2 linked regions of the Homo sapiens genome follow. The protein of the gene in region 2 purifies or fractionates together with the protein of the main gene of each other region. This does not show direct contact. Each region holds a gene or a part of one and is shown on either strand. Other genes may lie near its edges.

Region 1 (3,747 bases), on a different chromosome or scaffold from region 2:
TGTGCCACACCGGCGGGCTCCTCCTCCCTCAATCCCCGCCCAGACTGCCTCGGGCGGCAGAGCACGTGGCTCCAGCCCTGGGGAGCCATTTCGCTCCTGGAGCAGCGCGGCAGGAAAGGGGCCACAGGTCCCAAACTTGCGCACGCCGTAGAACGCCCACCTCCCCCACACCACGCCCAGGGGGTCGTTCAAAATGCAGATGTCCGGGCCCCAGCGATCAGAGTTCCAGGCATGTGCATTTTAAGAAGTGTGCGGGGTGGTTTGGCTGTGTGTGGTCCTTGAGTCCATCACCCTTTGGGTTTAGAGCAACCTAGGACCAAAGCTTGCAAAGTGGCTTCTGGGGAGGCCTGCGGACCTCGGGCCACCCACCCGGCTGGGGGACCCGACGCTTTCGGTTTACGGCAGGGGGGAGGGGCGTTGGATGGGAAAGTTTGCAGAGGAAACCCACGTGCGGCGGGAAGCTGCCCTGCGAGGCTAGGGGCGGCCTCAGGTGTCCCTTCCCCAAATGGCCTGCCCACCTGGCCTGCCTTGCCCATCGTGCCCGCGGGGGCCGAGCTTTGTGCAGGGAAAGCGTGGCCCAGGAGCGCCTACAAATCCCACAATGCTGCACCAGCAGGACACGGAGAACTACAGCTCCCGCGAGGCCGCGCGCAGAGGTCCGCCTACTCCAAGAGGGCTGCAGAGTCACGTCCAGGCCTCGCTAGTAAACAGCGCCCGGGCGCGGGCGGGCGAGCGAGCGGCAGCCAACGTGCCCCGGGCCGCGGCGCCCCTACCGGCCGCGCGGGCCCCTCGGGGTCCGCCCACCCCCAACACCCACACGCGAGCACGCCCCCGACCCCGCTGCAGCCCCGCTCTGCAAACACGCACAGTGCCCGGCTCCCCGCCCCCACCCCGCGCCGGGAGCCGCGGCATGGCTGCATTGTAGCCGCCCTAGCTACACCCCCACGCGCGCCCCGGGCCCCCAGACCCCCTTGGATGGGGACGACCTCAGATCCCGAGGAAGGAAGGAGAGGAAGGAAGCCGCCGCAGGAGGGGGAAAGAGGAAGCGCGGGGGGGAAGGCCACCAGCACCAAGCATGGCCGGGACTGCTGCAGAACCACGTGGGTCTGTTTGCAATTTACAAACGTCGCGACTCGCCCGCCTGCAGCGGACAAAAGTGGCCGGGGCCGCTTGGGGCCCCCATGCTCCAAGGAAGGAGGGTCCCGGGGCGGCGCGGACCCGGCGTGTGGGGCTGCAGCCGTCCCGGCAGCTAAGAAAGGCTAGCGGGGTCGGCGGCGCGGGCCATGCGTGCGCACACGCGCGCCCGCCCGGGCGGGCTGGCCGGGGGCTGCAGTGGTAGGAAGGGGGTGGGGGGAGGAGGAGTACACACCTACAGAGCCCTCCTATCACTTCTTTCTCTGTTTTCCTGAAATGTTGCAAAGAGGGCACCTTCTGAGTGGGCACCATGAAATACTCCATAGCGATCGGCCCCCCTCCTCTGCACGAGCCAGGTCCCGCGATCAGCCGGAGAATGCAAGATGGAAATCCGAATCAAAGGGCAGCGCCGGACGGAGGTGCAGAATCGGCCGGTCCCAGATGCTGGCGGCGGCGGCGGCGGCGAGGGGAGGGAGGCGGGCGGGAGGGGCGGGAGGGAGGTCTCTCCGGCCTGCCTCCCCGGGCGTGTGTATGTGTGTGTGTGTGTGTGTGTGTGTGTGTGTGTGTGTGTGTGTGTGTGTTTGCAGCTGATCAGATGTCTGTTTCAAGGCGGGAAACAGCTGGTGAAAACTCAGCACTCCCCCGGCCTCCTTCCGCGGAGTAAGGAATTGCATGTAAACAAAGGACTATTTGCAGCGCCCCCCGGGCGGCGCGAGGCCGGGGCGAGAGGGGCGCGGGCCCCCGGGGACCGGCTGCAACCGGGGTCTGCAGGCCTCTCGCGGGGCGCAGGGGGCCGGGGGCCGCGGGCGGGCTTGCGGGGCGCGGCGTGAATGGAGCGAGCTGCGGCCGAGCTACATGCGCCACTATGGGTGATGAGGTCCATCAGCTGACAGGTTGGCAAGCGTTGCAAAAAAAAAAAAAAAAAGGCCAGCCACCGCGCAGGGAGCCCAGCCCGTGCAGCCCGGAGTCCAGCAGCGACTGGCCCAGAGCAGGGTCCGCGCGCTCGGCCGGCCCGCAGGGAGGAGGGGGCGCGGCTGGGTCGGGCGTGCAGCGGCAGCAAGGAAGGCGGCCTGGGGTTCGCGCTTGGGGCTTCTGCTTTTTCACCATTGCAGCTGCACGGAGCGGAGCCTCTCCGGTGTGCTCCCTTCGAGCCGAGCCCAGGGCCCCCTGGAAACTTGCGTCACAGCCACCGCTTCCCACATGTAACTCGGGGCTGACTTCGGAGGCCGGCCAGCTTCCTCCCTCCCGCCTTGCTTAGCTGGCCGCACGGCCGGGACTCCGGATCCTGGGAATCTTGGACCCGGCGACGGGACGGCAAAGGGCGCCTCGGATGCTGGGGCCGCCCTAGGAAGCCGGGGGCCCCGGCAGGGAGGGGAGGGTGGAGGCGGGCCTGAACGGCAGCGGCCCCCGGGCGCAGGCTGCCAGCGCTGCGGGGAGGTCTGCTGGTTGCTGCCGGGTCCCCTGCTATTCCCCCAGACCCGCACTGTTCCCTCCGCGGGCTGAAGGCTGCAGCTTCCCATTCATAACAAAGCCCGTGTGGGACTTGCCCCTCCGCCAGGATGCGCTCCCCAAGAGGGGGTGACGACTTGGGGCAGGGACGGGGACCCTGGCGGCGAGCTTCCGTCCTCCGCTCGCACGCCGCACCTTCCGGCCCCAGGCCCTCCCCTGGCTCCTGGAGGGTTGGCTCCTGGCTCAGGAAGCCCACGCCTGCCTTGGAATGTCCTGGATCCTGCCCACCGCCTTCCAGGTTCCGCCTAAATCGCGCCTCCTAATTTGACTTATTCCTACTAGTAACAATAGTTACTGTTATTATTGGGAAATATTGTTATTAGATGTTGCCAGCACCCGGTGGATGCCGAGCAGTTTTGCTTACACGCTCTCCAATCCTTGAAGCAACCTGTTAGGCAGTTTCTCTAAGGAGAGATCCCAGACCACTTGACCAAAAAAAAGTCTCTGGAAGGCTTACTATGTTTCTACTTAAAAAAAAAAAAAAAAAAAAAAAACTTTCGGCTGGGCGCGTTGGCTCACGCCTGTAATCTCAGCACTTTGGGAGGCTGAGGCGGGTGGATCACCTGAGGTCGGGAGTTCGAGACCAGCCTGACCAACATGGAGAAACCCCGTCTCTACTAAAAATGCAAAATTAGCCGGGGGCCTGGTGGCACATGCCTGTAATCTCAGCTACTCGGGAGGCTGAAGCAGGAGAATCGCTTGAACCCGGGAGGTGGAGGTTGCAGTGAGCCAAGATCATGTCATTGCACTCCAGCCTGGGCAACAAGAGTGAAACTCCGTCTCAAAAAAAAAAAAAAAAAAAAACCTTTTTACTGTTTTTCAACAAATAGAGATAGGAGTCTCACTGTGTTGCCCAGCCTGGTCTTGAACTCCTGGGACTCAAGGAATCCTACCTCTACCTCCCAAATTGCTGGGATTACAAGCATGAGCCATGGATGGCCCTGGTGGGAAGCCTATTTTTAACTGCCCTTAGTGAGCAAGCTATTCTTTTTTTTGTTTTGTTTTGTTTTGTTTTTTAAGACGGAGTCTTGCTTTGTCACCCAGGCTAGAGTGCAGTGGCACGATCTCGGCTCACTGCAACCTCCGCCTCCTGGGTTCAAGTGA
Region 2 (3,747 bases):
ACCTACACATAAGCACTGAAACTATACAAGTCTTGATAAATTGAACATCATCAAAATTAAAATCATTTGTGCATCAAAGGACACCATCAAAAAAGTGAAAAGACAACTCACAGAAAGGGAGAAAATATTTGCAAATCATGTATCTGATAAGGGACTTGTGCCCAGAATATATAAAGAACTTATAACTCAATAATAAAAAGGCAAATTACCAATTTTTAAAGTGGGCAAAAGATTTAAATAGACATTTCTCCAGAGAAGGTACACAAATGGCCAATAAGCATACAACAAGTTGTTTAGCATCATCAGTAACAAGGGAATGCAAAGCAAAACCACAGAGTACCACTGCACAATCACTAGGGCAGATATAATAAAAGAGACAAATAATAGGAAGTGTTGGCAAGGATATGGAGAAATCCTCCATGCTGATATTATGAAACAGCTATTTTGTAATAAAGCTCAAACCCTCTCAACTTCCAGGCACTGGTCTCATACCAATTGGTGTGACTGTGGGAGTAAGTTGCCGCATATAAATCCTAGTTGTTTAGCTTCCCAGCTATCCAATGCAAAGCCTGATGCTACACACTTCGTGATTTGTGGGGCTAGGTATAAGAGTGCTATCCAGTGCTGGTTATGAAAAGGAGGTTCTTCTGAGCAAGCTGAAACCCTCATATACCACTGGCAGGATTGTAAAATGGTACAGCGCCTTTGGAAAACAGTTTGGCAGTTCCTCAAAATGCTAAACACAAGCCTGGGTGACAAAGTGAGACCTGGTCTCTACAAAAAAAAAAAAAAAAAAAAAAAAAGGGCCGGGCCTGGTAGTGCCTGTACTCCCAGCTACTCCGGGAGGCTTAGGTGGGAGCCTCAGGAGTCCCTGAGCTGGGGGACTGCTTGAGCCCAGGAGGTCAAGGCTGAAGCGAACCATGACTGTGTTACTGCACTCCAGCCTGGGTGACAGAGTGAGACCCTGTCTTCAAAAGGAAAAAAAAGCTAAACACAGAGTTACCATCCTAAGAAAATTAAAAACATGAAAACTTCTACACTAATATTTATAACAGCATCATTTGTAATAGTCAAAAAAATAGAAACAACTAAAATGTCCATCAACTAATAAACAGATGAACAATGAAATTTTATTCAGCCACTGGAAGCAACAAAGTACTGGCTGGGTGTGGTGGCTCATGCCTGTAATCCCAACACTTTGGGAGGCCAAGGACTGCTTGAGCACAGGAGTCCAAGACTAGTCTGGGCAATAAAGCAAGACCCCATCTGTACTTTTAAAAAAAAAAAAAAAAAAAAGAAGGGACAAAGCTGATGATACATGCTACAAAGCACATGGATGAACCTTGAAAACATTATGCTAAGTGAAAGCAGCGAGAAATAAAAGGCCACATAAGGTATTCTTCCAATTATATGAAGTGTTTAGAATAGTCCAATCCCAAGACAGAAGGTAGATGAGTGATCACCAGGGACTGGGAAGAAACACAGGCTGACTGCTAATGAGTGTGAGGGTTTTAGAGCGCGATGAAAATGTTCTGGAACTAGACAATGGTAATGTTATAGAATGCTGCAAATGTACTAAAGGCCACGGAATTACACCCTTTAAAATGTTCAATCTTATGGCATGGAAACTATATCTCGGTAAAGATGTTATAAAAGCATAGGAAAGCTAAAATTCAAAAAAGTTAGCTGAGATATTGGAATCAGGACTGCATTTACCATATCCTAGGGAATCACCCTAGACTTCAACTCCTTGTTACAAGTCTGCCTCCCCCTTCACCGCATGCTAAGCTTCTTGAAGGCAAGGACATGTCTTCTTCATCATCATATCCCTAGCATCCGGCCCAGAGTCCACCGCACTGCGAGTCCTCAAAATTAGGTGAATAAATAAAACATCTAAGCTCTGCCACTAACTAGCTGTGATGATCACCAACACAATCCTTTACTCTCTGAGCCAGATGTGTAAAATGGGGCCACACCTACCTTAAAAGTGCTGAGTGTTAACTGAGACCATAATGTAAAGCTCCCAACACACAATACATGATCAACACGTTAGCACTCTTCCCCTTAAAAAGGTGATCAAGAATTTCATGTCATGAAACAGAAGACTGTTCTCTCTTCTGGACCGATGGCTTTTCCTCCTACCTTGCCTACAACTCTACAGATATACAGAGTGGGATGGCCTCAAGGGTTCATAAGCACAGAGGAGAATAAAGATCTTGCCAGGTACCAGGTTGGTATAAGCCACCTCTGCTTTGTCTCTGTTCTAAAAGGGACAGGAACAGGTAGGGTTATGACTGCAGACATACTTACTTTGATGGTCCTGTCACCAGAGGCAGACACGATGTACTTGTCGTCAAAGTCTACTACATTGACGGCAGCCCGGTGGCCAACCAGGACACGGCGTAAAGTGATGTCGGTCGCAGAAGCCATGTCCCACACAGCAATGGAGCGGTCCTTGGAACAGGTCACCATCAGTCCATTGCTGAAGCGTAAGTGCAATACAGCCTCATTGTGGTGGATCAATGTGTTAAGAACTTCACCCGTGTTCACATCCCACACTCTAGGAGAGAAGAGAAAAGCATGATGCTTAATTATGGAGACAGCCAGGAAATGATTCTGGTATCTGAGCTCTGTCTGGGTCTGCAATGGTTTGGATATAGTTTGTCTGACTCTACCAAATCTCATGTTGAAATTGATCCTCAATGTTGGAGGTGGGGCCTGGCAGGAGATGTTTTGGGTCATGGTGGTGTATCACTCATGAATGGCTTGGTGCCATTCTCATAGGAGGGAGTTCACTCTTAGTTCCTGAGAGAACAGGTTGTTGAAAAGAGCCTCCTAGCACCTCCTCCCTCTCTCTTGCTTCTCTCTCACATGTGATCTGCACATGCTGGCTCCCCTTTGCCTTCTGCCATGAGTAGAAGTAGCTCGAAGCCCTCATCAGAAGTAGATGCTGGTGCCATGCTTCTTGCAGAGCCTGCAGAACCATGAGTCAAATACACCCCTTTTCTTTATAAATTACCCAGCCTCGGGTATTCCTTTATAGCAATACAAATGGAGTAAGACAGGGTCTATTCTTAATGAACCTAAGGACATGATTAAAAGGGGCCCCTAAAAGCAATTTCTTTATTTGCTGAGAAGTGCTGAGATGGTTTCAGAAAAGGTGGCTAATTCTGGCTCTGCCTGAGTTTAGGTATATTTAGCAGTCAGGTATTTAGGGACGGTGTTTGCAGGCTCGTGCTGATGGCAAAAGATGATTCCTCTAGATAGTAGATTTTGTATTGAGTCTGAGATGACAGGAAGAAGGAGGCTTGTTGGCTGAAGAACTGAGAATGGTTCCAAGCTTAGTTCTTGTTGACCTCTGACAGGCCTCTGAGTCTATCAGTTATCCACTGCAAACTGGGTAAGTCATGATGCCTCATCAATCACCGCATCCACTTCTTTACCCAGCTGCTTTATGGACAAAGCCAGGGTCTCCCAACTGCTTTGTAGATCCAGGGATCTGGAAGCAGCATTTCCACATCACGGCTTTTCTGTAACCCTCATCTCCTAAGAGGACAAGTTCACATAGGGCAGAGGGGGAAAGACTCAGGCCTCTGAGGCTGAGACATGATCTCTGGCAGAAGCAGGGGTACGGAAGCACTGAGTCCAGGAGAGGATACTAAGCATGCTTCAAGCAGGGGTGGCGATGCTTCCAGCAGGGGTGGCGAAAGAGTCCAGGAGTGACTCCTGGAAGTGAGTGTCTCCTCT

Evidence for each region. The genes of interacting proteins can lie anywhere in the genome.
Region 1: the proteins of FBXW11 (region 2) and TFAP4 purify together in Homo sapiens (affinity purification with mass spectrometry; 8 studies listed by BioGRID and IntAct, with this or other methods). This does not show direct contact.

Annotation. Positions count from the first base shown.
Region 1 is NC_000016.10:4,271,289-4,275,035, forward strand, and holds the start of TFAP4 (transcription factor AP-4), read right to left. Parts: upstream 1,736-3,747; 5' UTR 1,459-1,735; coding exon 1,370-1,458; intron 1-1,369.
Region 2 is NC_000005.10:171,873,975-171,877,721, forward strand, and holds part of FBXW11 (F-box/WD repeat-containing protein 11), read right to left. Parts: intron 2,561-3,747; coding exon 2,311-2,560; intron 1-2,310.